7 linked regions of the Homo sapiens genome follow. The protein of the gene in region 1 purifies or fractionates together with the protein of each later gene. This does not show direct contact. Each region holds a gene or a part of one and is shown on either strand. Other genes may lie near its edges.

Region 1 (4,034 bases):
ATGATTCTGTAATACTGAAGGTAGGTAGGAATTTGTGGGGAAAAACAAAGGTGAATAAAGACGAGATGGTAGAGGTTAGAAATGCCTTGGGTTGTTGCCATATGTGAGCCTGCGTCCCAGGGAGAGAAAGTGGAAAAGGACAGATCACTTGTTTGGACAGCCAAAGGTTTTAGGGCAGAGTTTTTCTCCTATGGAGGGGCCTTTACCAGTTGCTCTCCCTGTTTCAGACATTATCGGTCTGCTCGGGTAGAGACTCCATCCCATCCGGGTGGTGTGAGCGAAGAGTTTTGGGAACGCAGTCGGCAGAGAGAGCGGGAGCGGCGGGAACATGGTGTCTATGCCTCGTCCAAAGAAGAAAAGGATTGGAAGAAGGAGAAATCGCGGGATCGAGACTATGACCGCAAGAGGGACAGAGGTAAACTGTCCAGCACAGTTCCTATTGTCCATTAGCATTCGAATAAATGTGTCAGCCTTTTTCTTGTTGCAGGAGTTTTTGCAACACCCATTTGTTAGGGAGTCCTATTTGCATGATGTCCGCCTGAGTGGTTTTGACCCTGCTGGGATTGGGAATACTAGTTTAAGAAAAGAGCTGTTGCCTGTAACATAGCTGCTCTCCTTGAGTGTGTGGTCTTCGTTTTATTATGAAAATTGATGATAAAGGAGATAATGGGTAAATATGTATAAGAGACCAGCATTTCTAATAGTATTGGTGATAGAGAAAGGACAGTGCTATGGAACAAAGCTAGACAAAAAAATCCAATGCTGTCCTTGCTCAGTATTAAGTTTTATAGCTGATAGAATTGTAACTATTAAAAAAAATGATTCACTGTAAACTCGCACTAGTATTTTTTGAATTCTTGCTGGAAAATAACTGTTACTGTGGGTTTGAAATTTTCTAGGCAGTAACTATTTTTCCCCCTTGGGAGAATGGGGATAGGTGAGTTTCAGGAGTCCACGGATCACATTCGAGCAGTGCAGGTTGCACCTGTGAGTGAGTGGGCAGCCTGTCCTTTCTCTAGGGTGAAGATGTGTATACCTTAGGATGGGATGCATGTTTTTAAGCTTCGTGTGACTCTTCATAGATGAGCGGGATAGAAGTAGGCACAGCAGCAGATCAGAGCGAGATGGAGGGTCAGAGCGTAGCAGCAGAAGAAATGAACCCGAGAGCCCACGACATCGACCTAAAGGTAGACTCACTGTTTTGGTGGCTTGTGAGGATTCAAGTGTATAAAAGGCAGAGTGAGTGACTCTCGTCTTCAGTGAGATTGCTGAGGCATTGAGTCAGAATTCCCGATTCTACCATGAACATCTTGGGATAGTTGGTTCTGAGTCAGGTGGGCACAGCTCTGCACTTGGGGTGGATATGGTTCCTGTAAGGTGAGAGGCTGGTTTGCTGAATGGCCAGTTTTCCAAATGGTAGGAAAGAATAGGGAGCTGGAGGTAGAAGAAGTGTTTATTAAAAAGAACTACTTATATCCAAGAAGGGTGTGTTTGTAGAGATAAAGTAAATATCCCTTAAAATGTTGTCATAAACACAGAATGCAAACTGGACCATTGGCTAGGTGCAGTGGCTCATACCTGTAATCCCAGTACTTTGGGAGGCTGAGGCAGGCAGATTACTTGAGGTCAGGAGTTCGAGACCAGCCTGGCCAACATGGTGAAACCCCATCCCTACTAAAAATACAAAAATTAGCCTGGGGTGGTGGTGGGTACCTATAATCCCAGCTATTCGGTAGGCTGAGGCAGGAGAATCACTTGTACCCGGGAGGCAGAGGTTGCAGTGAGCCAAGATCACACCACTGTACTCCAGCCTGGGCGACAGAGCAAGACTTTGTCTCAAAAAAAGAAAAAAAGGAAAAATACATCCTGGACCATTAAAAATTGAGATATCTTTAAAAACTGTCAAAACCGATCTTAACCGTTATAGATACATGCAAGGTTTAGAAATAGTAAAAGGAGTAAATTTGGGGAATTGACTTTTGGCAACTGGTTCTAGACCATGTCATGGTTAAGTGAGATGTTTCCTGTGGATGTGTCTTTTGTGGCCCAGATGCAGCCACCCCTTCAAGGTCTACCTGGGAGGAAGAGGACAGTGGCTATGGCTCCTCAAGGCGCTCACAGTGGGAATCGCCCTCCCCGACGCCTTCCTATCGGGATTCTGAGCGGAGCCATCGGCTGTCCACTCGAGATCGAGACAGGTGATGTTCTGGGCAGAGCAGCCCAGTTTCGCTGGGTGGGCGGTAAGGAGCCTCGGCAGGGAGAGCAGATGGTGGCCAGGAGGACGTGGCTTAGCTCAGTGACAGTTTTGTGATGCTGGTGCTGCTGTTCCCAGGTCTGTGAGGGGCAAGTACTCGGATGACACGCCTCTGCCAACTCCCTCCTACAAATATAACGAGTGGGCCGATGACAGAAGACACTTGGGGTCCACCCCGCGTCTGTCCAGGGGCCGAGGTGAGGCCTGTGGGGCAGCAGGCAGAAGAGCAGGCTTGCTTGCCCTAGCGAGGATGAGCAGGGGCTGCCCTTCTGGAGCTGCATGGCCCTGCAGATCTGTCTGGGGCCGCTGGGGACAGGCCAGGGCATGGACTGACCTGCTTCCTGTGCTCCTCCAGGAAGACGTGAGGAGGGCGAAGAAGGAATTTCATTTGACACGGAGGAGGAGCGGCAGCAGTGGGAAGATGACCAGAGGGTAAAGTTTTATACCTCTGAGGGGCTGATCGGGGCTGGTGGCCGTCTGTAGATGGGTGACCCTCTAGCAGGACTGGGCTTTGATGAGGGTACACCTGAGCCCTGTTCAGACCCAATGCCCTGGAGTCTCTTTGCAGAGGCATAGACGGCACGGTGAACCCTGTCACTCACTGCAGTAGGCTGACCTAACTGTTCTGTTATGTGTTGGTGCCACCATGTGGTAAATCTAAGAAGTGCTATCGTGATGGGCTGCCCTCCAGTCCTGTGTAGTTGCCCACTGTGGTTCTCCTCCAGATGGCATGTGTCTGCAGGGAGGCCTCTCCTGCACCCCTCACAAGGGTAGCTCCACTGCAGTAGTGACTTCCTACCAAGCGTCCCTTCTTCTGTTGGCCATGTCTCGTGCATAAACTTGATCTGTCCCTCACTCCCTTGCTTTGCCTCCTGCCCTGCAGCAAGCCGATCGGGATTGGTACATGATGGACGAGGGCTATGACGAGTTCCACAACCCGCTGGCCTACTCCTCCGAGGACTACGTGAGGAGGCGGGAGCAGCACCTGCATAAACAGAAGCAGAAGCGCATTTCAGCTCAGCGGAGACAGATCAATGAGGTGAGGCTGCCTGCAGAAGTTGGAGCAGATTCAGAGCTGGAGGTAGAGCACGTGGGGAAGCAGCAGGTTATCCCCAAGTGAGGGCAGCACAGCTTGTCCCCTGATTGCCGAGAAGCCCAGATCCTCTGGAGGTGGAAGAGGAGTGGGTGATGAGCCTTTTAGTAGCTTAAGGAAAGCCCCGGCTCGTACTTCTCTCTTTTGCAGTACTTCCTTGAGGGGAAGTACTGTTGATGGGAACAGGTGCATTGGGACCTGCCTCTGTGGTCTGTGTTCTTTGTGTCTCTGATGTGGGCTAGGGACACTTACCATTTGTGTGTCCCTCTAGAGGTTCTGATTTAGATGAAAGGTGCTGCTGCTTGGAACAAACTCCTGCAGGTGATTTGGGATCAGCACCTCTTCTGTCTTTGGAGCTGTGGGTAGAGGCCTGTGACATCTTTGCAGCTACCAGTGGCCTTCTGTCAGGACTTGATGTGTGGACTTACCTCATAACCTTTCAGGACGACCTTTGGGGTGGCAATTTGAGTGTGGCTCCCATTGTGTCCTCACAGGATAACGAGCGCTGGGAGACAAACCGCATGCTCACCAGTGGGGTGGTCCATCGGCTGGAGGTGGATGAGGACTTTGAAGAGGACAACGCGGCCAAGGTGCATCTGATGGTGCACAATCTGGTGCCTCCCTTTCTGGATGGGCGCATTGTCTTCACCAAGCAGGTGAGGCTCCTCTGTGGCCAGGGACAAGACA
Region 2 (4,034 bases), on another chromosome or scaffold:
AACATGTATTAGCACACATACTAGGAGCCACTGACTATGCTAAGTACTCTCATATAATTTCTCAGTTAATTAACCTAATTTAAGCTAGGATTTATGATAAGGACCTTCGTACTACCTCACTTCGGCCCAGTTACATAAAATTCTTACATATTCACTTGCCTTCTACAACTCACACAGCAGCAAGTTAATGCGCATTTAAGAAACCACAGGTAAGTGTACTAGATACCCAGATAGGTATCTAGAAACACCTACTACCTAACCAAAAATTTCTACATGGAAATCTCAGAGTGAGACTTTAGGAAATAAGTGCTTAGAGGCCACTGTAGGGCCAGGTGTGGTGGTTCACATCTGTAATCCCAACACTTTGGAAGGCTGGGCACTAGGATTGCTTGAGGCCAGGTAAGAACAGTTTAGGCAACATAGCAAAACCCCACCTCTACAAAAAATAAAATAAAATAGAGACCACTGGCCACAATCTTATTTCTTTCCTTTTCACACATAGTTGAAAACACAATTCATACCCAAAGGAAAAAAAAGCATTATATTAAAAAGACACCTGCACTTGTATATTGATCGCAGCACTATTCATGATAGCAAAGTCATGGAACCCACCTAAGTGTCTACCAACAGATGATCAGACAAAGAAAATGGGGTGTATATATACACTGTGGAATACAAATGAAATGTTAAAAAATAATGAAATCATGTCTTTTGTAGCAACATGAATGGAGCTGGAGGCCATTATCCTAAGTGAACTCAGAGGCAGAAAATCATATATCGCATGTTCTCACTTACAAGTGGGTACACAAGGACATTAAGATGGAAATAACAGACACTGGGAACTCCAAAAAGGGGTAGGATGGGAGAGGACTGAAGGTTTAAAAATTATCTACTGGGCACTGTGTTCAATATCACGGTGATGGGTACACTAGAAGCCCAATCTCCACCATTACTCATGCAATACCCATGTAACAAATAAGCCTATGTGCCCTCTGAATCTAAAATAAAAAAAAAAAAAAAAAAATTCAACATCATTGCTGGCACATAAGAGATAATTAAGTAGTAAATGTTATGTAAATAACAGACAGTTCACAGAATCTGGCTATTTCATGAAATGCATCTCATGAAGCAGAAATGAGTAAATCTTTTAGAAAAATAAAAAGCTGCACTTGATTTACGTAATTATAGCCTTCACAAATAAACCTATTATAAAATACATAAAATGACAAAGTTTTACAAATATTTATAGTTCATATAATTTATTTTCTGAATATAAAAAAGTATTTACGATTTACTAGTATGAATTTGGAAACCCTTCTGAAGACAAAAACAGTCATTTGAAAGCTACATATGAGCTTCTGTTCCTGGTCCTCTTTTTATCAACTACAGACTGTGACTCTGTCCAATCTCCTAAGATTATTAAATGTTTTTCTGTCAACAAGTGAAATAGCACCCTGAATTGTATACTACAGTTTAAAAATACACAGGTCCTATATATTATAAAAAGAACCTGATATGTACATCTAACCTCCCCCACACTCATTATTGGTGAATAACAAAAAATTGGTAGGTGAATAAATGACCTGAAAGAAAAGTAAATCCTATGCAAAAAATTAAAGTAAACAATAATAGGTGACTACTGGTGGGAAACGTCGCAAAATGAAGTCGATTAGCTAGGCACTAAGTCAGAGATAGAATCTCAATTATTTGTATCAGGACCCTTTTAAACTTTTTTTTTTTTTTTTTTCAGACAGTCTCGCTCTGTCACCCTGGCTGGAGTACAGTGGCACAATCTCAGCTCACTGCAACCTCCGCCTCTCGGTTCAAGCAATTCTCCCACTTCAGCTTCCTGAGTAGCTGGGATTACAGGCACGTGCCACTGTGCCTGGCTAATTTTTGTATTTTTAGTAGAGATGGAGTTTCGCCATGTTGGTCAGGCTGGTCTCAAACTCCTGACCACAAGTGATCCTCCTGGCCTTGGCCTCCCAAAGTGCTGGGATTACAGGCATGAGCCACCACACCCAGCCTAAACTCTTAAGAATTATGCAGAGGCTGGGTACAGTGGCTCATATCTATAATCTCAGCACTTTGGGAGGGTGAGGAGCATCACTTGAGGCCAGGAGTTTGAGACCAGCCTGGGCAACACAGTGAGATCCTGTCTCTATATAAAAAATAAAATAAATTTTTAAAAATTACAATTAAAACCAAGACTCGTGAAAATATTTATGAATTCATTTTAAAATAAGTCATTTTATGTTTATGTAAATATTTTTTAAGAGAAACAGCTATATGATCCAAAATTTAAACTTTTATAAAAAAGAGTAGCCCCTTTTACATTTTTGCAAATCTCAATACCTGGCTTAACAAATGACAACCAGATACTCATTTATCTTTTCTGGCATTCAGTGTGTTGCAATATGTTCTTTAAGCAAAAGTACATGAAAAAAAAAAAAAAAACACAGCCTCACACTGACATCAAACTAGAAAAAGGAAAACCTCATAAATGCCTGTAAGAGGGGCTCAGGGACTTCCAGAGGTCCACAAACCACACTCTGAGATCCACAATACTAAGTATATAGTAGCTGCTCAATAAACTTAGTGAATGATATGGAAATAACAAAAGCAGTTATGCAGAAAGCTGAGTATAGGCTACTGTTACAAGTAAGACAAGTACTTAAAAAGCATGCTTACTATACTGTTAGGGTGTAAAGGATTAACATGATAAATATAGTATAAAACTCCTATTTCACAACTCAAGGAGACAGAATAAAATCACCTTCATATAGCAAATAGCCACATACTCGTATACACCCCAATAATAACAGTATCTCTCAAAATGGAAGAAAACATACTTTTAACCCTTTACCCATTGAGAAAAAAAAAGTACAGCTTGCTGCAAGGACTCATTTAATTTTACATAAACACGCTCTTTGAGGCCGAAGCAAATCTGACTTTCAAGGTGAAAATAAAATATAAAAACTGTTCTTGGAGTTATTTCTAAATAGAACTAACATCAGAATTGTTTGAATCATCAGATTCGTCTATTTCGAAAAAAAAAATCAGATTCAACAAACGAATCCTCGGGCAACAACTGTTCGAGAATGACAATACCATGTGCAGGACTGCTATGTTTTCTACGATTTGACATTTTCAGTGATTAACAATTACTATAGTTTGTAAATGAAAATATCACTATTAAAACCAGAATGCTATAAATAGAATGATGTCTTCTGTTTCCAAAGTCAATATGCCACAGCAATGCAAAAATAATAATAAAAGCTAGGTATTTTGTGGCAAAGTTATCTCAAGGTAAACACTGCAGCCAAGCACTACTGGCGAGTATTCACAGGACAGACAGGAAAAGGGTTAAATATAGCTGCATTGGCCAGGTGCAGTGGCTCACGCCTGTAATCCCAGCACTTTGGGAGGCCAAGGCGGGCGGATCACCTGAGGTCAGGAGTTTGAGACCAGCCTGGCCAACATGGTGAAACCCTGTTTCTACTAAAAATACAAAAAATTAGTCGAGTGTGGTGGCGTGTGCCTGTAATCCCAGCTACTGGGGAGGCTGAGGCAGGAGAATCGCTTGAACCCAGAAGGTGGAGGTTGCAATGAGCCGAAATCACACCATTGCACTCCAGCTTGGGCAACAAGAGTGAAACTCCGTCTCAAAATAATAATAATAAAAAATAGCTGCATCATCGATATATATAATAGGCAAATTCATAAAGAGTAGAATAGTGGTTACTAAGAGCTGGAAGGAGGGAATATGGGGAGTTACTGTTCAATGGGTTCAGAGTTTCTGTTTGGGATGATGAAAAAGTTCTGGAAATGGATAGTGGTAACTGCTGCATAACACTGCAAATATACTTAATGCCAATGAATTGTACACTTAAAAATTGTTGAAACTGGCCGGGCACAGTGACTCATGCCTGTAATCCAAGCACTTTGGGAGGCCGGGGCAGGTGGATCACCTCAGGTTGGGAGTTCGAGACCAGCCTGACCAACATGGAGAAACCCCCCTCTACTAAAAATAC
Region 3 (4,034 bases), on another chromosome or scaffold:
AGCCAGCAGTGTTGTATTGTGACCATTGAAGCCTTGGAAGTAAATGAGCTTATCCATTAGTGGGAGTTTAGAGTGGCTTAAAAGGTGCTGACTGAGCCTTGAGGAATCCAACATTAAATAACTGGGCAAAATTTGATGACAAGAGAGGTACAAGAAAAACCAAGAGGGCCAGGCACAGTGGCTCACGCCTGTAATCCCAGCACTTTGGGAGGCCAAGGTGGGCAGATGGCCTGGGGTCAGGAGTTTGAGAGCAGCCTGGCCAGTGTGGTGAAATCCTGTCACTACAAAAAATACGAAAAAATTAGCCGGGCATGGTGGCGGGCACCTGTAATCGAGCTACTCGGGAGACTGAGGCAGGAGAATCGCTTGAACCTGGGAGGCGGAGGTTGCAGTGAGCTGAGATCATGCCACTGCACTCCAGCCTGGGCAACAGAGCGAGACTCTGTCTCTAAAAAAAAAAGAAAAAGAAAAACCAAGAGAATGTAGTGTCAGGGAAGTCAAGACATAATATATAAAAAGGGAAGGAACAGAGCTGAAAAATGTCCATTGGATTTAGCACAATGGTCCTTGATGACTTAATGATGTAACTCTTTTCTTTAGAATGGTAGGGAATGGAGGGCTAAGTTAGAGTGAGTGAGGATGAAAATAGAAGGTGAGGAAATGGAGGCAGTGAATATAGATAACTCTTGAGATATTCATTCTTGAAGGGGTACAGAGATAGGACCCTCTTTTCTCTCATTAAGAGTTACTGTGTTAGAAAAGTTTGAGACATACACAGAAAGAGGGATTAAGGATGGATATGAGAAAAGAGTCCTGTGAAATTTTAAATACACGTGTGTGTCTCTCTCCATTTGTAAATTGGAGTTGAGAGAGAAACAGTGCTAACAGTATGTAGAGACCTTGAGGAGGGGGAAGAGACCCTTCCTTACACATAATATAGGAGAAAAAAAAACATATGAAACAGTATATATTATTAGGATGTATTTTTGGTAGTTTGAGTGAATTCATGAAGGCCTACTTTTTACTGTAAGTTTCACTTCTTTTCCTAGAGGAGGCCAGATAACCATGTCAGCCACAGTTGTAGATGCAGTTAATGCTGCACCCCTATCGGGGTCCAAAGAAATGAGTTTGGAAGAACCAAAGAAGATGACCAGAGAGGACTGGAGAAAGAAGAAGGAGCTAGAAGAACAGCGAAAATTGGGCAATGCTCCTGCAGAAGTTGATGAAGAAGGAAAGTAAGTACTTAATTTTTTGTATGATCCATTCATTCAGAATTCAAATTCATGTCTACTTAGTTTATTAATTTTTCATCCTTTGAGAGGAACCTCTCTTCATTTATGTCATTTTTGTTTTTTATTTTATCAAACTCATATGCATATGGTTTAATAATGAAATTATGTTGAAGGGCTTATAATGAATAGCAACAGTCCTTTTTTACCGTTCCCACCCCTGGCCTGCTCTACAGAAGTGACTGCTATGAAATCTTTCTATTTTGAGTTTTTCTGGTTGTTACCGTCACATCTCTAGATAATAATACCTACACAATTATTTTAATTAATTGACTATAGACATTATTTGAACCAAAACTTCTTGTGATAGAAGATTTAGATTACTAACACACATCTCTATTTTCCTTCCTCTCTTGTCCCCCTTCAGTTATATCACTATTCTTAGTTTCTTAGTTGGAAATATTTTCACTCTAAAATAAATTACTTCTTTATTTTTAATTATTCTTTATTATAGTATAGAGATAGCAACCTTGTTCTCTTCCCCCTACCACTGCAATATTTCTGTTCTTAGATTTTGTATAAGCTACCTTTGTAATTGTAATACTGATTATTTTCCAATTTTATCCTTAAATTTTTTTTTTTTTTACTTTAATTACAGAGACATCAACCCCCATATTCCTCAGTATATTTCTTCAGTGCCATGGTATATTGATCCTTCAAAAAGACCTACTTTAAAACACCAGAGACCACAACCAGAAAAACAAAAGCAGTTCAGCTCATCTGGAGAATGGTACAAGAGGGGTGTAAAAGAGGTATGTAGGCAACCTGTATACATCTTCATGGATATGGAGAGTTTAAGAACTTAATGTAAGAATTTTTAATGCAATACTATTTAAAGTAGAAACAGATAATAAAACCCTTTATCTGGTATTGAAATTCACAGTGCATTACTATTTTATCTTTGTGTTTCTTATATAAATTTTACACTCCTGAACTCTTTAAAGTTTCACATTTATAAATGTGTGGAGACTCTAACTTATTTTCCTTTTAACAAAGAAATCATTTCCCTAGACAAAATAGTAATGAGAGTCAAAGTTATTTCTAACTTACGTGGTTAAGACATTTTTGTTTTTCTTTATATATATTTATAGAATTCCATAATTACTAAGTACCGCAAAGGAGCATGTGAAAATTGTGGGGCCATGACACACAAAAAGAAAGACTGCTTTGAGGTAAGTTCACCTTTGAAAATTTTGAAAACCGTTGTCAGAGTCTTTCTTTTTTCTTTGTCAGAGAGCTAACTTCTCTTTTTCTGAAATCACCTATATTTAGGTACAAGTTAAATAAAAATTAGTTTCAGTGGAATTGGTTCAACACCAACAAAATTTTCTACTGTAAGACTAACTGTAAATTGAATAGATCGTAAAGTGCCCACTCTGTAAAAGTTGTATGAAGTTTTCCTTTGGGCCATAAAAACTTAGGAAAAGATTAAATCTTACTCTGTTTTTAGAGACCTAGGCGAGTTGGAGCCAAATTTACAGGTACTAATATAGCTCCAGATGAACATGTCCAGCCTCAACTGATGTTTGACTATGATGGGAAGAGGGATCGGTGGAATGGCTACAATCCAGAAGAACACATGAAAATTGTTGAAGAGTATGCCAAAGTTGATTTGGTGAGCAAAATTCCCTGCTTTCCTGGGGTTTTTAAAGAATCGTCCTTTTGCTGTATCTCTAGCAGCTCTACTTTTCAAATCTTGAAGCACTTTAAAAATGGTAGCATTTTTATAATAGTAGTACTACTGTATAGGCTACCTTTATAATTGTAATATTGAGTAAAGGAAATAGTGTGCTAGCCATACTTGCCAGCAGTTTCTTCTTATTTGATTCTTATATTGGTCCTTTACTCCCTGACTTAGGTAGCAAAAGATATTGGAAGCATGAAGACAGATTAGTGTCCAAAGCTTTTGGTTTTGTGAGGTTAGAAATGTATGGCCCCAAGCTATAGCTTGCCCATGAACCTATTTTATAGTTGCCTCCCATAGCATTTGGGAGTAGTAGAAAGGGAATGGATAATTTGTTTCAGAAAATTTTATTTTATTTTAACCCAACTTCAGTTTTTACTGTTATGATTTGACCTATTCACCCTTATTCCTTTGAAGTCATAGTCACACTGCCTTTTTTTTTTAATTAGAGGTATCATTTTAAAATTATAAGATTTCATATAAAAATCTGGATTTCATCTTTTCTTGAATATTGTAATATATGGTAACCCCACGCCTGCCTGGTAAGAGTCAGTCATCTAGAGTTCTGTGGCAACTGCTTGTTTTTGTCAGGGCTTGCTCCCTGCAATTTACTACTGATGCCATTTGGCTCAGTTTACATTAATGCCTGGTTCAAACACTGTGTAACTCCTGCTCTTTATAGAGTAATAGGTCTAGGGCTACAAGGAATCCCAAAGAGATAGGTTTGTTCAGTGACCTTTTCTGAAATAAATTAATTTAAAGTTATTCATTTTAAATATATAAAAATTTAGGTGGTGACTTGAATGTTGTAAGTAAAATTTAAATGTTTACTTTTTCTTTCTTTCTTTCTTTTTTTTTTTTTTAAAGGCAAAACGAACATTGAAAGCCCAGAAACTCCAAGAGGAATTAGCCTCAGGAAAATTAGTGGAACAGGCTGTAAGTAATGAAAATGATCAATAAAAAGGTTTTATTTCTTTTAAACAAAGAAATGAAAATTGAAACAAGAATTCATTTTATAGCTCTTCAGTTAGGAAGAGAGAAATGCTATTGGGGGAAAAATA
Region 4 (4,034 bases), on another chromosome or scaffold:
CTCAACATCCAAGGCAATTCATTGTGATAGATGTGTAGATGTGATTAGCACTCTTGAGAACGCCGAATCATATAAAACAAGGAAATGCAATGCTTACATTGTTCTAGGTTTAATCATTTGATAGTTGGAAATTTCATATGGTTCAGTCTTGTGAAATAACTAGCACTTTTTGAGTATATTAACTAAATAGTGGATTTTACACAACTTTTTTTTTTTTTTTTTTTTTGAGGCGAAGTCTCACTTTTTCACCCAGGCTGGAGTGCAGTGGTGCCATCTCGGCTCAGTGCAACCTCCGCCTCCCAGGTTCAAGCGATTCTCCTGCCTCAGCCTCCCTAGTAGCTGGGATTACAGGCATGTGCCACCACCCCTGGCTAATTTTTTTGTATTTTTATTAGAGACAGGGTTTCATCATGTTGGCCAGGCTGGTCTGAACTCCTGACCTCAAGTGATCCGCCCACCTCGGCCTCCGAAAGTGCTAGAATTACAGGTGTGAGCCACGGTGCCTAGCCTGTGGTTTTTATTAAAGAAATTGGTGCATTTTATCTAAGTTGTCAAGTTTATGTGCTTAGAGTTGTTTGTCACAGCCTCTTTTAATATCTGTGGGGTCTGTAGTGGTGTCTCTTTTCATTCCTGATATTGATAATTCTTCCTTTTGTCTTTTTCCTTTGTCAGTCTGACGAGAGGTTTATTCATTATACATTTTCAGAGAACCAGATTTTGATCTGATTGAATTTTGTTTCTATTTTTGTTTTCAATTTCATTGTTCTCTTTCTTTCTAATGCTTGCTTCAATTTTTATTTTGTTCTTTTTCTAGTTTCTTAATGTTGAAGCATAGATTGTTGATTTGATACCTTTTTTTTTTGAGACAGTCTCAAATGACTTTTAATTTAATTCCATTATGGCTAGAGAACACACATGATTTCCGTTCTTTGTGCACTTGAATGTACATTCTGCACTTGAATGTACATTTTTGTGTAGTGTGTTCTATAAATGTCAAATCCAGTTGGCTATTAGTGTTGGTCAATTCTTTTATATCTTTGCTGATTTTCTACTTGTTTATTGATTACCAGGAGAAGAGTATTGAAGTCTGCAACTATAACAACTGTAATTGTGGATTTATCTATTTCTCTCCTTTTTTTTTTTTTTTTTTTTTTTTTTTTTTTTTTTTTTTGAGACTGAGTCTTGCTCTGTCGCCCAGGCTGGAATGCTGGAGTGCAGTGGCATGATCTTGGCTCACCACACCCTCTGCCTTCCTGGTTCAAGTGATTCTCGTGCCTCTGCCTCCCCAGTAGCTGGGACTACAGGTGTGAGCTACCATGCCTGGCTAATTTTTTGTATTTTTAGTAGAGACAGGGTTTCTTCATGATGCCCAGGCTGGTCTTGAACTCCTGGGCCCAAGCAATCCACCTGCCTCGGCCTCTCGAAGTGCTGGGATTACAGGCATGAGCCATCATGCCCGGCCGTATTTCTCTTTTAAGTTCTCTTAGTTTTTGCATCATTCATTTTGAGGCTCTTAGGTGGGTACATACATATTTAGGATTGTTGTCTTCTTAGTGAACTCTTTTATTATTATGTAATGACACCTTATATTCCTAGTAACTTTCCTGGCTCTGAAGTTTCCTTTGCCTCAGATATGAATATAGTTACTTCCGTTTTATTAGTGTTTACATGGTATATCATTTTCAATCCTTTTACTTTTAACCTTTCTGTATAATATTTAAAGTGGATTTCTTCTGGATAGCAAATAGATGGGTCTTGTCCCACTCTGACAATGTCTTTTAGTCAGTATGTTTAACTGTATACATTTAATATAATTAGTTATGTTTAGATTTGCTTTACTGCTTAAGATTCATAAAAACAGACTGGAAAATGTGTTTTTAGCAAACATTGTAAAGTATTTAGAAGTGATACCAAGAAATTAGTCTTAAGAGGCGACAAAGGATTCAGGCAAATGTTTGAGTACTACTTGTGTCCTTGGTCAAGCCGTTTAACAACCTCTTTGTGAAATGGAACTACTATACAGTTTTGTTCTTAATTTGGTTCCAAAGCTAACAGGACAGGAAAATTTGCTTATATTCAAAATTAAACTAAACTTTAGACTCACATTCAAAATAGCTCATACTTCGAGTGAGGTATATGGGATCTGGTTTGTTCTGAGGGAATAGGAGAAATGCATCTCCGCTCTCAAGGTCACCCTGGGTCATAAGCTCATGAGTAGAGTGACTAGATGCAATGGCCTGAAATTTAAATGACTTGCACTGTATATGCTCATTAACCTGTTATATTATTAACCTAATAATAGGACTCCAGTGTAATAGTGCTTACATAACAAGATTGTTGAGAAGAGTAATTAAATAATGCCATCTTATAGATTGTATTAGAGTAACATGAACTTACTCTAATAGGGTGGATTAAGGAGCACAATTTTAATTAGGCACACTACTGTTTGGTATAACAATCGGATAAGCAGGTGGGGAAGAGTGGCGTGGGAGAGAACAGTTGGATAGCTCTGCTGCTCTGAGTCATTCTTGTTTGTCCTAACTGATTTGAAGGCCACTGTGCTAATGACAGTGCTGGGAATGGAGGCAGAAATGAGGTTTGGTCAGTTGTAGGGTTTCCTCAATGATGTTTAGATTTTATAACGTCCTCTTATAGCTAAAATTTATTATTGATACTCCTAAAGAAAAAAATATTTTTACTGCAACTGGAAACTCCCTTGTCCCCCCCAGTTCCCATTTTTATATGGAAATAGTTATTTTTATATGTGATTTTCGATAATGCAGTGTTTCTTAAAATTCTATCACTGTTCTTGTAGAGCAGTCTGTATTTGTTAAGTATATATAGCACAGTATCTGATTTTTTTTTTAAGTTGCTTTAAGTATTGCATGTGCAGGAGTATGGACACTAAGTCAAGTTAAGGGGCTTTCATATTTAGGTATTGTGCAGGTAGACCTTTGATTTTGGTCCCTTTTGTTCCCAGAGATTGTATCTTAAAGTCCGAGAGACAGTGCTGTAAAGTGAAATCCTGAATTCTTGCTTTCACTCCCTATGTATGTATACTTGTACAAAGAATTGAAGCCTGATTCTTAATTCAGCAATGTTTATTTTATTAAACACCAATTAATCTTTATGTAATCACTTTTTAACATTTTTTAATATTTTGTCTTTACTTTTATTTTAAATTTTTATTTTTTTCTTGGCCAGGCACAGTGGCTCATGCTTGTAATCCCAGCACTTTGGGAGGCCAAGGCAGGAGGATTGCTTGAGCATAGGAGTTAGAAACCTACCAGCCTGGGCAACATAGTGAGACACTATCCCTAAAAAAAAAAATTTCGTTTGGCTTTTTTTTTAGAGACAGAGTATCACTGCGTTGCTCATGCTGGAGTACTGTGGCTATTCACAGGCATGATCATAGTGTGGTGTAGCCTCAAATTCCTGGTCTCAAATGATCCTCCCACCTCAGCCTTCTGATACGTAATCACTTTTGGTGACTGTAGTTTACCCTCATATGAAGATACCTTGTATTAGTTAGGCTAAATGATAAGATTGGTTCTAACATAAAGGTTAAATAACAGTACTTACAACAATATAAAAGTTTTGCTTTTCTGTCACACAGCACTCAGAATCAGCAGATCAGGGCTGTCCATGTGAGGGATCCAGGCTCTTTTTGTGTCGATACTGTGTTACTTTTGACATGGGGTGGGTGCGTGCGGCTCTTAACAGAAAGATTCAAGTTTAATAGATACAGAAGAATTGATGGAATCAGAAGAATCATCATTTTGCAACCCCCATGGTAATAACTGGTTCAGAAAGTAGTCATCAGTGGCCAAACCATAGGTGAAAAGTTGTGCTGTGTGCAAAGTATCCAACAGATTATTTATTTAAAATGGAGGAAAATTCCTTTACAACTAAGATGTGGCTAATATCTCAGTTATAAAGGTACTTTAATGGGTCCGACTGACATGCTTTCTAATGGGGTGCAAAAAAAAAAAGATGGAGACTGTTTTAGATTAAAAGAGGCCAACAAATGAAAA
Region 5 (4,034 bases), on another chromosome or scaffold:
AGTACAGTGGCGTGATCTTGGCTCATTGCACCCTCTCTAGCGGTTTGGATGTGAGATTGCAGTCTTTTGTGATCTTTCAAAATGGAAATCCTCATGTTATAAATGTTTTAAGAACTGTAAGGTGACTGAGTGTATGGCGTGGTTTTTGGACACAAAAAAATGCTTGAGCATTGGGTTACCTGATCTTTTATCTCTTAACTGTGTGTAATATGTTTCTGCCAAAGTATGTATTTTTCCCATGAGTAAGCTGTTTTATTTAATAACATCCTCAGTTTGGTCTGAATGTGCTGAGTTGTTTATTTTCTCCATGCATTTGCTGCATGTGACCTAGTTTGAGCCGTCTCTTTGTGTATTGCTTCTCATGTGATATTAACCCACTCAAAGATGCCATGGGGTTATGTTGCAGATCTCAGCTCTTTTTTTGTTGGATTAAAGATATTTGTAGGCTAGACGCGGTGGCTCATGCCTGTAATTCCAGCACTTTCGGAGACCGACGTAGGCGGATCACCTGAGGTTGGGAGTTAGAGACCAGCATTGCCAACATGGTGAAACCCTGTCTTTACTAAAAGTACCAAAATTTGCCGGGCATGGTGGCGTACGCCTGTAGTCCCAGCTACTCAGGAGGCTGAGGCATGAGAGTCACTTGAACCTGGGAGGTGGAGGTTGCAGTGAGCTGAGATTGTACCATTGCACTCCAGCCTGGGTGACACAGTGAGACTCTGTCTCAAAAAAAAAAAAAAAAAAGATATTTGGAGATACTTGTATAAAATGTCATTTCTAAAATATGACCCCCAAATTCAGTCTCCTATTGATAGAACCAAAGCCATTTAAGCAGTCAGTAGAAAATTTTGAAAACCTGAAACGTGATAATGCACATTTCTTGACTTTTCTTTCCTTTCCTTTCTCAGGTACAAGAATATTCCACAGATGTCCTTTGATGATACAGAAAGGGAGCCAGATCAGACCTTTAGTCTGAACCGGGATCTTACAGGAGAATTAGAGTATGCTACAAAGTAAGCACTGGGCCTGTCTTCCATTCTCTATGGCTTCTTATAGGGCTTGCCATTTATTTTTGGCCAGTCTCCTGCTCTCTTAGCATTGGAAATGAGTTAAAACAGTGGAGGAGACTTGATCTTTGGCTTGGTCAGTTTTTGGCAGAGATTCAGTGCAAGCCACAGACTTGTTAACTTGCAAGCAATTGGCAGATCTGAATGAACTCCTAGGGTGGTTTTAGGAAAGATGTGTCTCCCATTAGTTTAGGTTAACACTAAATGTGCTTTAGAATCCCTGCTGGGTTATGCAGCATTTCTCATTCCTGTTCCTTGAGGGCAGGAGCAGTGTTTATCCCTACTGCCTTGGACAGGATCTGGCAGGTGCTCAGTAAATGGTCATTGAATTAATTGCCTGTCCAAAGGAGAAGGAAGAACTCAGGAGCTCTGACTTTGCCTGGCTTTTACAAGCTGGAGCTGAATTGTTGTTTCACATGGTGGTGAGATACTCATTGAACTATAATTCATACCTTCTTTCCCTATTCCTGTCATCCTCTAGAATTTCTCGTTTTTCAAATGTCTATCATCTCTCAATTCATATTTCAAAAAACTTCGGAGCAGATACGACAAAGGTCTTTTATATTGGCCTGAGAGGAGAGTGGACTGAGGTAAGATGGGGTTGGAAAGGTTTTCCCCTCATGTCTACATATCTGCACACTGTGGTGATGGGAGCTTCCAGGGAAGGGAAAAGAGCAAGTGTCATAATTACTCCCAGTTTATTATTTTTCTTGGTTTTATCAGTATAAACTTTTCGTCTCATTTGAGAAACTACAGGTATTTTTAAGGGGGTTGAAACTGTTATTTTTATATAAATAATATATATAATATATATATATATATCTCAGCTCACTGCGACCTCCGCCTCCCAGGTTCAAGTGATTCTCCTGCCTCAGCCCCCCAAGTAGCTGGGATTACAGGTGCCCACTCCCACGCCTGGCTAATTTTTTTGTATTTTTAGTAGAGACAGGGTTTCACCATGTTGGCCAGGCTGGTCTCGAACTCCTGACCTCAGGTGATCTGCCCATCTCAGCCTCCCAAAATGTTGGGATTACAGGTGTGAGCCACCTTGCCCAGCCTGAAATTGTCATTTATATTAATTCACAGTTTTCTACTTTCAAATGCTTTCATTGAGTATTTTTGATAATCTTTTCTATTCATGAACCAGGGATAAGATAATACCATAGACAAGTTCCTATTCTCATGGTACCCCCATTATAGTAGGGAGACTGAATCTTCAAAGTTACAGGGTGAATCAATGATAATGATCTTTGCAGCTTTCTGGAGTTAAAAAGTATCAAAATTGGGAGATATTAGATGATGACATCTAAGTATTAAAATAAGGAGATATTAAATGATGACTCCTAGAAATGAACCTGAATAAGGACTACCGCAATGTGTGTGGTGTGGGAAAGGACAGTTCTTTTAATGGCTGGCTGACCCAGCCTCAATTTTCTTGCAGCTTCGCCGACACGAGGTGACCATCTGCAATTACGAAGCATCTGCCAACCCAGCAGACCATAGGGTCCATCAGGTTACCCCACAGACACACTTTATTTCCTAAGGGCTGGCCAAGGCTCCCATAGAGGCGCTGTGTCAGTGAAGATGTACGACTACCTGTTGGGAAGGACAAAGGGATGAGGCTCCAGAGAGAGTTGGCTGCCACAGCCTCTGCCAAGCTTTGTCTTTGGGGCTTGCTGCAGAAACCTGGCCTACGGAAGATACGACACCACTGGGAGGGTTGTGTAGGTGCCAGGGGACCATCGTGGTTCTCTAGGGCGCTGTGGAAATTGGGTCTTGGGCTGGGTGGCATCTGGCAGTCATGGGTAACACTTGCTTTTCCAGTTAATGTGGCCATGTGATTCCAAGTGTCATGTTGCTTTGTGGCAAGATTGTTGTGTGACTTGTTTTTTTGTTTTTGTTTTTGTTTTTTTAAAGGAAACTATTTGTGGGCTATAGGAAACTTTCTGATGCCTCCGGATTGTGTTAGTAGTAGCCATCAGGAGGGTCTCCAACTAAAACACTTGTTCCTGCTTGCTCCTTTCCCCTCTCATTGTTCAGCATTCTTGTCAAGTTGCCCAGCTTGGAGTTGTCTGTCACGCACATGTGTCCTGTGGTTATAGCTAGAAGGACAGGAGTCTCCTGCTGATGCGTGATAGCTTAAGCTTGGGGAGAAGGTCTTTTCCACTGCCTAGCTAAGCAGTCTGGGGAGAGCATGGGGATCATTTCTATGTGTGTGGGTAATCTGGTCAGTAAGATTGAGACTTAGTTAAGATTCCCCTTGGAAATTCCTTAATGTTTATTAGCTTCTAACTAGTGTTGTAAGTCCGATGCCAGAATTTGGAGATTTGAGTTCTTCTTTTCATGGCTTTTATTCACTGTGACTAATAAGCTTCCTAATAAATCCTTGCCAGACTTAATGTTTGTATTTTCTTTTGAGTTCTTGATAGCCACTGATGCAACTTTCATTTCATGGGGAACTGTACTGAACTTTGAAATTTTTTGTTGTTGTTTTGGACTAGGTAGATTATAGGAAGTGCCACAATTAAATCAAGACTGGAGCCGGGCGCGGTGGCTCACGCCTGTAATCCCAGCACTTTGGGAGGCCGAGGTGGGCGGATCACGAGGTCAGGAGATCGAGACCACGGTGAAACCGTCTCTACCAAAAATACAAAAAATTAGCCGGGTGCGGTGGCGGGAGCCTGTAGTCCCAGCTACTCAGGAGGCTGAGGCAGGAGAATGGCATGAACCCGGGAAGCGGAGCTTGCAGTGACCTGAGATTGCACCACTGCACTCCAGCCTGGGTGACAGAGTGAGACTCCGTCTCAAAAAAAAAAAAAAAAAAAATCAAGACTGGATCAGTTTCTCCAGGAATGGTCAAGCTTAATTTTGTACAGTAGGCCAAAAACACTCCTACACCCATATATAGTAAAGAAGAAGGTGGGGTTGAAAACCTGTATTTCACAGAAATTAACTGGGCATGGTGGC
Region 6 (4,034 bases), on another chromosome or scaffold:
AAATAACTAGAATGGACTGTGTACACATATATACACTATACATATTCTATTCATACACATTCTATACCTATGAACTTAAACATATACACATACAAATATGCATACACACATACATATGCATATATACACATACCTCATTTAAAAATTTTTGCCTGAGCAAAAGATCTATTACAGGAAAACCTTAAGGCCTGTTCACGCTCATTTTCAGAAAACGTTGTTTCCATCTTTTTCATGAATACTACTGCAATTGGTTGGCTTACTTTCCTACCTTAGCATTATATATGAGTGTATTTATATCTGTACACATATATAGGTATATACATTTATATGTATTTATAGATTTGTGGTATTTAAATCTACTTATTAAACAGACCTTGGACACTGTACTAAGTCTGAGAATAGAAATGCAAACAAAGACCACATGGTGTGCCCTATGGAACTTACAGTTGATGGACTCATGAATAGGCAAAAAGAATGTAAATAAAATAAGTACAAATTGTGTAGTAGTAAATGCTTTGAAGAAAATAAGCAGGATACTGAGAAGAGAGGGGTGGTAGTGACCAGGGAAGGCCTGACTCCTAGTGAGGACTATGAAATTTTTCCCTTATTCTGTCAGTATTCATTGTTCAAGAATTTAATCAGATTTGCCCTGGAGTTCATGTGTTTTTTATTTTAAAAATTCTATTGTTAATCATGTTGCTATAGGCATGAAGCATTTTTTTTTTTTTAGAGAAAAACTTAATGTTTTGTGAAAGAGAGAGACAGCTAGAGTTTTTTGTTTGACTTTGCCTTCTCCTGACTTTCCCTCTGCAAGGTTTTTGTGTTTCTAAGTTGTCTTCTTTTAGTTAGGAGACTAGAATACAGAAAAACATTCTGCTAAATATGATTTTAGGTATTTTGTCATAAATTAGATCTTAGGAAAACTGATTTTCAAGGCATCCTGGGGTTTTAACCTAAATTTCCCAAAATATTAAGGCTGTGAATCATTTTTCATCACAGGATCTTTGTGATGTGTCAAAGAAAACAATTTTGTAACTGCAGTTAAAGATATCTACCAAAGTAACACAAATGCTGCCTTCAAAATGAAAACCAGTTTTCTGTTTATTCTTGCTAAATGTTTATGTAATATAAATGTAGTATGGGTTCTGGTTGATGTTTTGTGAAAATTATGTTCTGTTTCATCCAGCGCAAGTATTTACTTGATCTGATTTCTTCTTGATACAGGTTAAATGGGCCAGGGAAAACTATCACCATAACATTGGCTCACCATATTGCTTACGGTTAGCTTCTGCTGATGTCAATGGGAAGATCATCGTCTGGGATGTAGCAGCAGGAGTAGCTCAGTGTGAGATCCAAGAGCATGCCAAGCCTATCCAGGGTGAGGAAAGTCTGCTCAGCTAAGTGTGTATATTGATACACTTACTCTTGGAGTGGTTTTTTGGTTTTGGGGGTTTTCCCCCATTCATTTAATTTTATCAATTCCAAGTTAGCTCTTGATTGTGTTTTGCCTATTCTGCTGATCTAAATCTGGCTTTCTGTCCTTACTAATACACTTCTAGGCATATTTCTTCAAATCTCAACTGATTTGTGCTTTGGTAAAACTCATTAATTGCAATATCAGCCTCATTCAAGCATGATAAGAAAAAGTAAGTGGTACAATCTTGTAATCTAAGCTACAATATAAGGAAAATTGGCCACTGCTGTTAGGAACTAGCCATCAGTGCTTACTCTACATTAAGTAATTTGTTCATTATCAGAGATGAACAAAATTTTATTCTCATTTTCATATAGATTGCTTGTTTGTTCGTTTCATGTTACTGACCTAAAACCAGTACGGTATTCTTTTTTTTTTTCTTTTTTTTTTTTTGAGATGGAGTGTCGCTCTGTTGCCCAGGCTGGAGTACAGTGGCGCTATCTCGGCTCACTGCAAACTCTGCCTCCTGGGTTCACGCCATTCTCCTGCCTCAGCCTCCCGAGTAGCTGGGACCACAGGCACACACCACCACACCCAGCTAATTTTTTGTATTTTTAGTAGAGACGGGGTTTTACCATGTTAGCCAGGATGGTCTCGATCTCCTGACTTCGTGATCCACCTGCCTCGTCCTCCCAAAGTGCTGGGATTACAGGCGTGAACCACTGCGCCCTGCCCAGTACAGTATTCTTTAGACTTAAGTCCTCCAGTGGCTCTCTTGACTGAATGAATTTTTTAAATGACTATTTAAAAAATATTTATTAAATACTTACTGTGTACTAGGTACTGAACTAGATCTTTGCATATTCTGTTTATTTTTTGAAAAACCATGAAGAACTGTAAAGTTCCATTAAGTAATTCCACAGAAACATTAGGAAAGTCTGACATCTTGGTTGTGGCTAAGAGAGTTTCATATTGATTTTATAGTTTTAAGTAATGATTAGGGCAAATTGCCTTTTATTTTCTTTGAAGTAATATTTCAGATTACTTCAAAATTTTTACCTTGAGAGTTTAACCAGACAACTTATTTTTATATAGAATTAGTTTTTTCTCTGGAATATTGATACACACACACACACACACACACACGTCACATTTGGGGCTGGTGGTTAAGTTTTTAAAGATTATATTTTAAAAACTAAATATCAAGGACAAGTTAGCCAAGGACTTTGGAGAGTGTGGTTTCTGAATTTTGCCTTTCTTTATCGGGTCTTTCCAGATGTTCAGTGGTTGTGGAATCAAGATGCTTCCCGCGATTTACTGCTTGCTATCCACCCGCCAAATTACATTGTGCTCTGGAATGCCGACACTGGCACCAAACTATGGAAGAAGAGCTATGCAGATAACATTCTTTCTTTTTCTTTTGACCCTTTTGATCCCTCACATTTAACTTGTGAGTAACAGTTGCTTGTGGAAAATGAGTTAAGTGAGATATTTATAATATAGTAATGCTATGTGCATGAGATATACACACACATTATACATCTATAATGTTAAAATGACTGAGCGAAGTGGAGAAGCATGTCTAGTCCATATATCTGCAGCTCCTAATACACATACTCAATCATAAGTTCATATCATTGCAAATATGATAAAAAATTAAATCAGCAAGCTACACCTTCACTGTGTTGAATTTGTGAATAGTATTAGACTAGCCAGGGACAGAGAGTTACTTTGACACTCCAGACTTAATTAGTTCTTCTAAGAACATTTAAATAACTTGAATCAAGGGTTTCATTCAGTCTGTGGCCAAGTTAAGTTCTTGCTTTTTAATAAATTGTCCTAATTCACGCCATTCATTTTGAGTGCCATAAACAGATGCATGTAAAGAAGAAATAAGCCTAAGCAAGTTTTTTCTTGCAGAGATAGTTTTTGCTAATATGCTTTTAATGTTTTCCTGAGCTAATGATCTAAAAATGAGATGTGCTTTAGGTATTTTTGTGGCTAAATTGTTTAGAAACTATTTAATCATCCAACAGATATTTCTTGAGCTATTGCTACTCTTCTGGGAACCAAGATGTCTCAGAACCCAAAAGGCAGGAGCCTTCACAGAGTTTGCATTCTAGTGAGAAGAAGTCATATCATAAACTGTGACCACAATGAATTAATAAATTCTAGTGTAGTAAGAGGTGACAGGTGATATAAAGGCAGGATAAAGGGGATGCAGAAGAATGGGGGATGAGGGCATGCAAGTTGTATGAGATAAAGTGGTCAAAGTAGGCTTCACTTTGATAATGATCAGAAATGTGAAGGAGGTAAGGGAATTAGCTATGGTAAGGAATGTTTTTCCTGGATTTGAATGACTCAAAATTGTTTTACCCATCAACTTTTATTGAGGGGTGTGTGTGTGTCTGCACGTGTTAAAGGAGGAAGAGAAAGGCAGACAAAATTGAAATTATAATAACATGGGAAATGTGGCTGTGTAAATACACTACAGGGTGCTTAGGCTTTTATGTATGTAAATGTTTGTATATGGACGTGTGCATACATACACTCACTTGGTCACCAGTTTACTTACTCACATAGGTGCAGTGCTGGGGAAACACCTAGGAGGGCTGGCCCA
Region 7 (4,034 bases), on another chromosome or scaffold:
CTCCCCCAAGGAGGCCTCAGCATAATTCTTCAGGTGCATCTCCTAGGAGAGTCCGTCATGATTCACCAGATCCCTCTCCTCCTAGGCGAGCCCGTCATGGTTCCTCAGATATCTCTTCCCCCAGAAGGGTCCATAACAACTCCCCTGACACATCTAGGAGGACTCTTGGCTCTTCAGACACACAGCAACTCAGAAGGGCCCGTCATGACTCCCCTGATTTGGCTCCTAATGTCACTTATTCCCTGCCCAGAACCAAAAGTGGTAAAGCCCCAGAAAGAGCCTCTAGCAAGACTTCTCCACATTGGAAGGAGTCAGGAGCCTCCCATTTGTCATTCCCAAAGAACAGCAAATATGAGTATGACCCTGACATCTCTCCTCCACGAAAAAAGCAAGCAAAATCCCATTTTGGAGACAAGAAGCAGCTTGATTCCAAAGGTGAGCATATGACTGTCCATGAGAGGGATGTATGTATCCCTGGGAGCTTTCTTTTGGCCGTTTAGTTGATTTATTAGGTATAAGAATGGAATTTCTTTGGGAAAGTTTTGAAAAGTGAGAGGCTGGGTTTGGGAGAGTTGAACAATTATGGTGGCAGGGAGGAAGGTTTTCATATGTCTTTTTATGTGCTCGCTCCACCCCATATAAAAGTACAATTTATTTGTTGCAGAAGCTTTGGAATGTACAGAAGTATATAAAGATAAAATGTGACACAAAATTCTGTCATTCAGAGGCAATTATTGTTAGTGTTGTGGCCAGGGTCATCTTAGTCTTTTTTGGTTTGCATTTTTTATATAGTTGAGCTCTGGCTGTGTAGAACATTTGTATTGCATGTGCAATCTTGCCTGCTGTCCTTTCTTAACGTAGTCTTCCTCAGGCCATAAAACATCTTTATGTTAGTATAATTTTTAATAGTGTTTAATTACAAATTTAACCATTTTCCTAATAATGAATGTTTTTGGTTATTTCTAAGTTTTTTCTTCTGTAATTCTATAATGAACATCCTTGTACATAAACTGTTGTCCCCATTTTGGATTATTTCCTTATCTACTTCTAGATAGATTTCCTCGAAATTCAACTACTTCTATATAAGTTTCCTAGAAAGCTGAGAAGTTGATGTACTGGGTCAGAAGATGTGGGCGTTTTAAAGACTGTCGATACATATTGCAGAATGCCCTTTGGGAGGTGACTTGTGATGCTTATACAGTCGCTAGAACTTAGGCCTGTGCAGTGAAATTTTTTACTCCCTCTTTTGTTCCTAGGAACTATTTTAATTTTAAAATTAAAGTACTTTGTTATCCTTTAGTCCAAGGATATCAGACTATATTCCAGGTATTTCTGACTTTTGCCACACTATGGAGAGCTGACTACAAGTTATTTTGTCTTTCCATGGGTGGGGTTACTGACATAGAGGAGTGTGTGGAGATTTTACACACCAGTTACAGTCAGTGGTCACTTGGGAATAGAATGCCATATTCTACCTGTTGGTCTTAAAAGTTGTTTCTGACTTTGCTCTTCTCCTGTGCCATCCATACTTATGTTTAGGTTAATGATAATTCTTCATAGGAAAACTAAATAAATATTGTACATTAGCTTGGTAAGTTATCTTTTTAGATTCTTCCAAGGGGATTAAAGAACTCTTTGGCCAGGCATGGTGGCTCAAGCCTATAATCCCAGCACTTTGGAGGCCGAGGTGGGCAGATCACCTCAGGTCAGGAGTTCAAGACCAGCCTGGCCAACATAGCGAAACCCCATCTCTACTAAAAACACAAAAATTAGCTGGGCGTGGTGGCACACACCTGTAATTCCAGCTACTTGGGAGGCTGAGGCACAATAATTGCTTGAACCCAGGAGGCGGAGGTTGCAGTGAGCTGAGATCATGCCACTGCACTCCAGCCTGAGACTGTCTCAAAAAAAAAAAAATAATAATAATGTAAGGAATTCTTTAATTTCTAGGTTCTTCTCCCAGCCATAGGAGATTTCATGTAAGTTCTTCACCTAGAGGACATCAGAGTCACACAGATTCTTTGCTCCTATCCAGGTGACTGCCAGAAAGCAACTGATTCAGACCTTTCTTCTCCACGGCATAAACAAAGTCCAGGGCACCAGGATTCTGATTCAGATCTGTCACCTCCACGGAATAGACCTAGACACCGGAGCTCTGATTCTGACCTCTCTCCACCAAGGAGGAGACAGAGGACCAAATCTTCTGATTCTGACCTGTCCCCGCCTCGAAGGAGTCAGCCTCCTGGAAAGAAGGTCAGGATTTTCAGGAGCCATGTCCTTCTTTTCGTGTGACTCTTCTCTCTCAGCTTTATATATGTCCCAGAGAATCAAGCCAAGAAGAAGGATGTAGCTCTGAGAAGTGTAGTAAATCTTAGTTAAAAGGACCTTTGGAGGTCTTTCCTTCTGAAGGCAAACTGGCTATAACCCATCCCAGATGGACTTACAGATACCAGATTTCCCAAGTAGCTTCTGCGTTTATAGCCTCTTAATTCTACAATCTCATTTTAACAGGTCTAGAAAAACTTCCTATTTTCTTAGGAATAAACCGAGGACTGTAATTTGCAGAGTGAAGTTTGGAGCACAAGCATTGTGTCAAACGGATCACATACAGAAATTCTCCTTCTGCCACTTACTGTCTGTGAGATTTGGGCAAGATGCTTAATATCTCTAAACCTCAGTTTCTTTATCTGTAAATTGTGGATAATAGTAGTACCTACTGTGTAAGGTTGTTATGATAATTAAGCCAGTGTAAGTAAAACTCTTAGCACAGTGTCTGGGACAAAGTAAGCATCTAGTGTTAGTGATTTACTAGTATAAATTGGACTATAGGTCTCTGTATCCAGAGCTTAAGGAGAGGCACTTAAAATATGAAACCACTTTTAGAAATCATGTTGTCTGAGAAGTCAATGGTTTGTTTTAAATTCATGATAAGGCTTGATGAATTAGCCAAAAAACCCCAAAATCCATATGAACCTTGAGTAATTATATTGTAAAGAACATTGGTAGTAGTAAAGGAATCTTATTTGTAAGTGGTTAAGAAACAGAATGATAGAGCCTGTGATGTGCATTTTTCTCCCCAGTGCAGACTTATCAGGTAAATCTTGTCTGTAGAAGACTCTGAGAAGACTGGTCCTGGCAGGGTAGACCAGCCTGTTCTTTACCCAGGAAGTGAGATTCTTCTTTTTTAGGGAAAAAAGAGGTCTCTGTTTCAGCTGGACCTCTTGGCATTTTATATATCCATTTAGTTCATGGACAACTTAATATTATTCCAATTTCGTTGCTGAAGGATATCAAGATATACTGTGTGCTTCATTCGTGGGCTGATTTGCTATCTTGATGCTAAGTGGAAATTAGCAAAAAGTTTTCATTTGTTAGATCTTCTGTTATTACCATGAAATATATCCACAATTTAAGGATCTTAGGTTTGCTTGAGTTTGTACTGTAAATGGAATATTTTATCAGTATGGGTCTCTAATGGAAGGCTTAGTGCTTTATACTGGTTTCTGATCAGATGACCTGAGATAGTCTTCATGTGTGCAGTTTATATACTGAAAAGTCAGAAATACAAATGCGTAGCCCTCCATTTAATATATTGTTAGTGTTTCTGCTTATTCTTAAACTTGATGGTTTTGATGATGGTTTTCTTTTATAGTTTTTGAATCCTATGGTAATTATTGAGAATATAAAGCTAGAGTTTTAGGTTTAATTATTGCTGGTCATTAGACACAAATGCAACTAACTGTGTACCCATGGAGCCTACTGTCACATCATCTCATTAATGTTGGATGCTCCCTTTTCCGTTGCATAGGCTGCACACATGTATTCTGGGGCTAAAACTGGGTTGGTGTTAACTGACATACAGCGAGAACAGCAGGAGCTCAAGGAACAGGATCAAGAAACCATGGCATTTGAAGGTAAAAATATGAAAGTGCAGAGACCAATTTAGGCTCATACTGTTTTTTTTTTTTTAATTTAGCTTATTGTACCTGATATTTTGAACTTTTAATTGCTATCAAATTTCAGCTCTGGTTTTA

What was found.
Region 2: the proteins of DHX38 (region 1) and PPP4R3B purify together in Homo sapiens (co-immunoprecipitation; 2 studies listed by BioGRID and IntAct, with this or other methods). This does not show direct contact.
Region 3: the proteins of DHX38 (region 1) and SLU7 fractionate together in Homo sapiens (co-fractionation; one large-scale study listed by BioGRID). This does not show direct contact.
Region 4: the proteins of DHX38 (region 1) and NKTR purify together in Homo sapiens (co-immunoprecipitation; one large-scale study listed by IntAct). This does not show direct contact.
Region 5: the proteins of DHX38 (region 1) and PITHD1 fractionate together in Homo sapiens (co-fractionation; one large-scale study listed by BioGRID). This does not show direct contact.
Region 6: the proteins of DHX38 (region 1) and WDR11 fractionate together in Homo sapiens (co-fractionation; one large-scale study listed by BioGRID). This does not show direct contact.
Region 7: the proteins of DHX38 (region 1) and BUD13 purify together in Homo sapiens (co-immunoprecipitation; one large-scale study listed by IntAct). This does not show direct contact.

What each region holds. Positions count from the first base shown.
Region 1 is NC_000016.10:72,096,595-72,100,628, forward strand, and holds part of DHX38 (pre-mRNA-splicing factor ATP-dependent RNA helicase PRP16), read left to right. Parts: intron 1-227; coding exon 228-415; intron 416-1,082; coding exon 1,083-1,187; intron 1,188-2,050; coding exon 2,051-2,198; intron 2,199-2,332; coding exon 2,333-2,451; intron 2,452-2,609; coding exon 2,610-2,686; intron 2,687-3,137; coding exon 3,138-3,293; intron 3,294-3,841; coding exon 3,842-4,003; intron 4,004-4,034. UniProt on the Homo sapiens protein: Probable ATP-binding RNA helicase. Involved in pre-mRNA splicing as component of the spliceosome.
Region 2 is NC_000002.12:55,593,298-55,597,331, forward strand, and holds part of PPP4R3B (serine/threonine-protein phosphatase 4 regulatory subunit 3B), read right to left. Parts: intron 1-4,034. UniProt on the Homo sapiens protein: Regulatory subunit of serine/threonine-protein phosphatase 4 (PP4). May regulate the activity of PPP4C at centrosomal microtubule organizing centers.
Region 3 is NC_000005.10:160,412,326-160,416,359, reverse strand, and holds part of SLU7 (pre-mRNA-splicing factor SLU7), read left to right. Parts: intron 1-1,049; coding exon of another isoform or gene 1,050-1,065; coding exon 1,066-1,235; intron 1,236-1,887; coding exon 1,888-2,041; intron 2,042-2,380; coding exon 2,381-2,461; intron 2,462-2,739; coding exon 2,740-2,904; intron 2,905-3,840; coding exon 3,841-3,909; intron 3,910-4,034. UniProt on the Homo sapiens protein: Required for pre-mRNA splicing as component of the spliceosome. Participates in the second catalytic step of pre-mRNA splicing, when the free hydroxyl group of exon I attacks the 3'-splice site to generate spliced mRNA and the excised lariat intron.
Region 4 is NC_000003.12:42,603,528-42,607,561, forward strand, and holds part of NKTR (NK-tumor recognition protein), read left to right. Parts: intron 1-4,034. UniProt on the Homo sapiens protein: PPIase that catalyzes the cis-trans isomerization of proline imidic peptide bonds in oligopeptides and may therefore assist protein folding. Component of a putative tumor-recognition complex involved in the function of NK cells.
Region 5 is NC_000001.11:23,784,767-23,788,800, forward strand, and holds the end of PITHD1 (PITH domain-containing protein 1), read left to right. Parts: intron 1-908; coding exon 909-1,013; intron 1,014-1,548; coding exon 1,549-1,657; intron 1,658-2,508; coding exon 2,509-2,610; 3' UTR 2,611-3,466; downstream 3,467-4,034. UniProt on the Homo sapiens protein: Promotes megakaryocyte differentiation by up-regulating RUNX1 expression.
Region 6 is NC_000010.11:120,857,419-120,861,452, forward strand, and holds part of WDR11 (WD repeat-containing protein 11), read left to right. Parts: intron 1-1,224; coding exon 1,225-1,378; intron 1,379-2,690; coding exon 2,691-2,864; intron 2,865-4,034. UniProt on the Homo sapiens protein: Involved in the Hedgehog (Hh) signaling pathway, is essential for normal ciliogenesis.
Region 7 is NC_000011.10:116,758,954-116,762,987, reverse strand, and holds part of BUD13 (BUD13 homolog), read left to right. Parts: coding exon 1-435; intron 436-2,035; coding exon 2,036-2,253; intron 2,254-3,808; coding exon 3,809-3,914; intron 3,915-4,034. UniProt on the Homo sapiens protein: Involved in pre-mRNA splicing as component of the activated spliceosome. As a component of the minor spliceosome, involved in the splicing of U12-type introns in pre-mRNAs.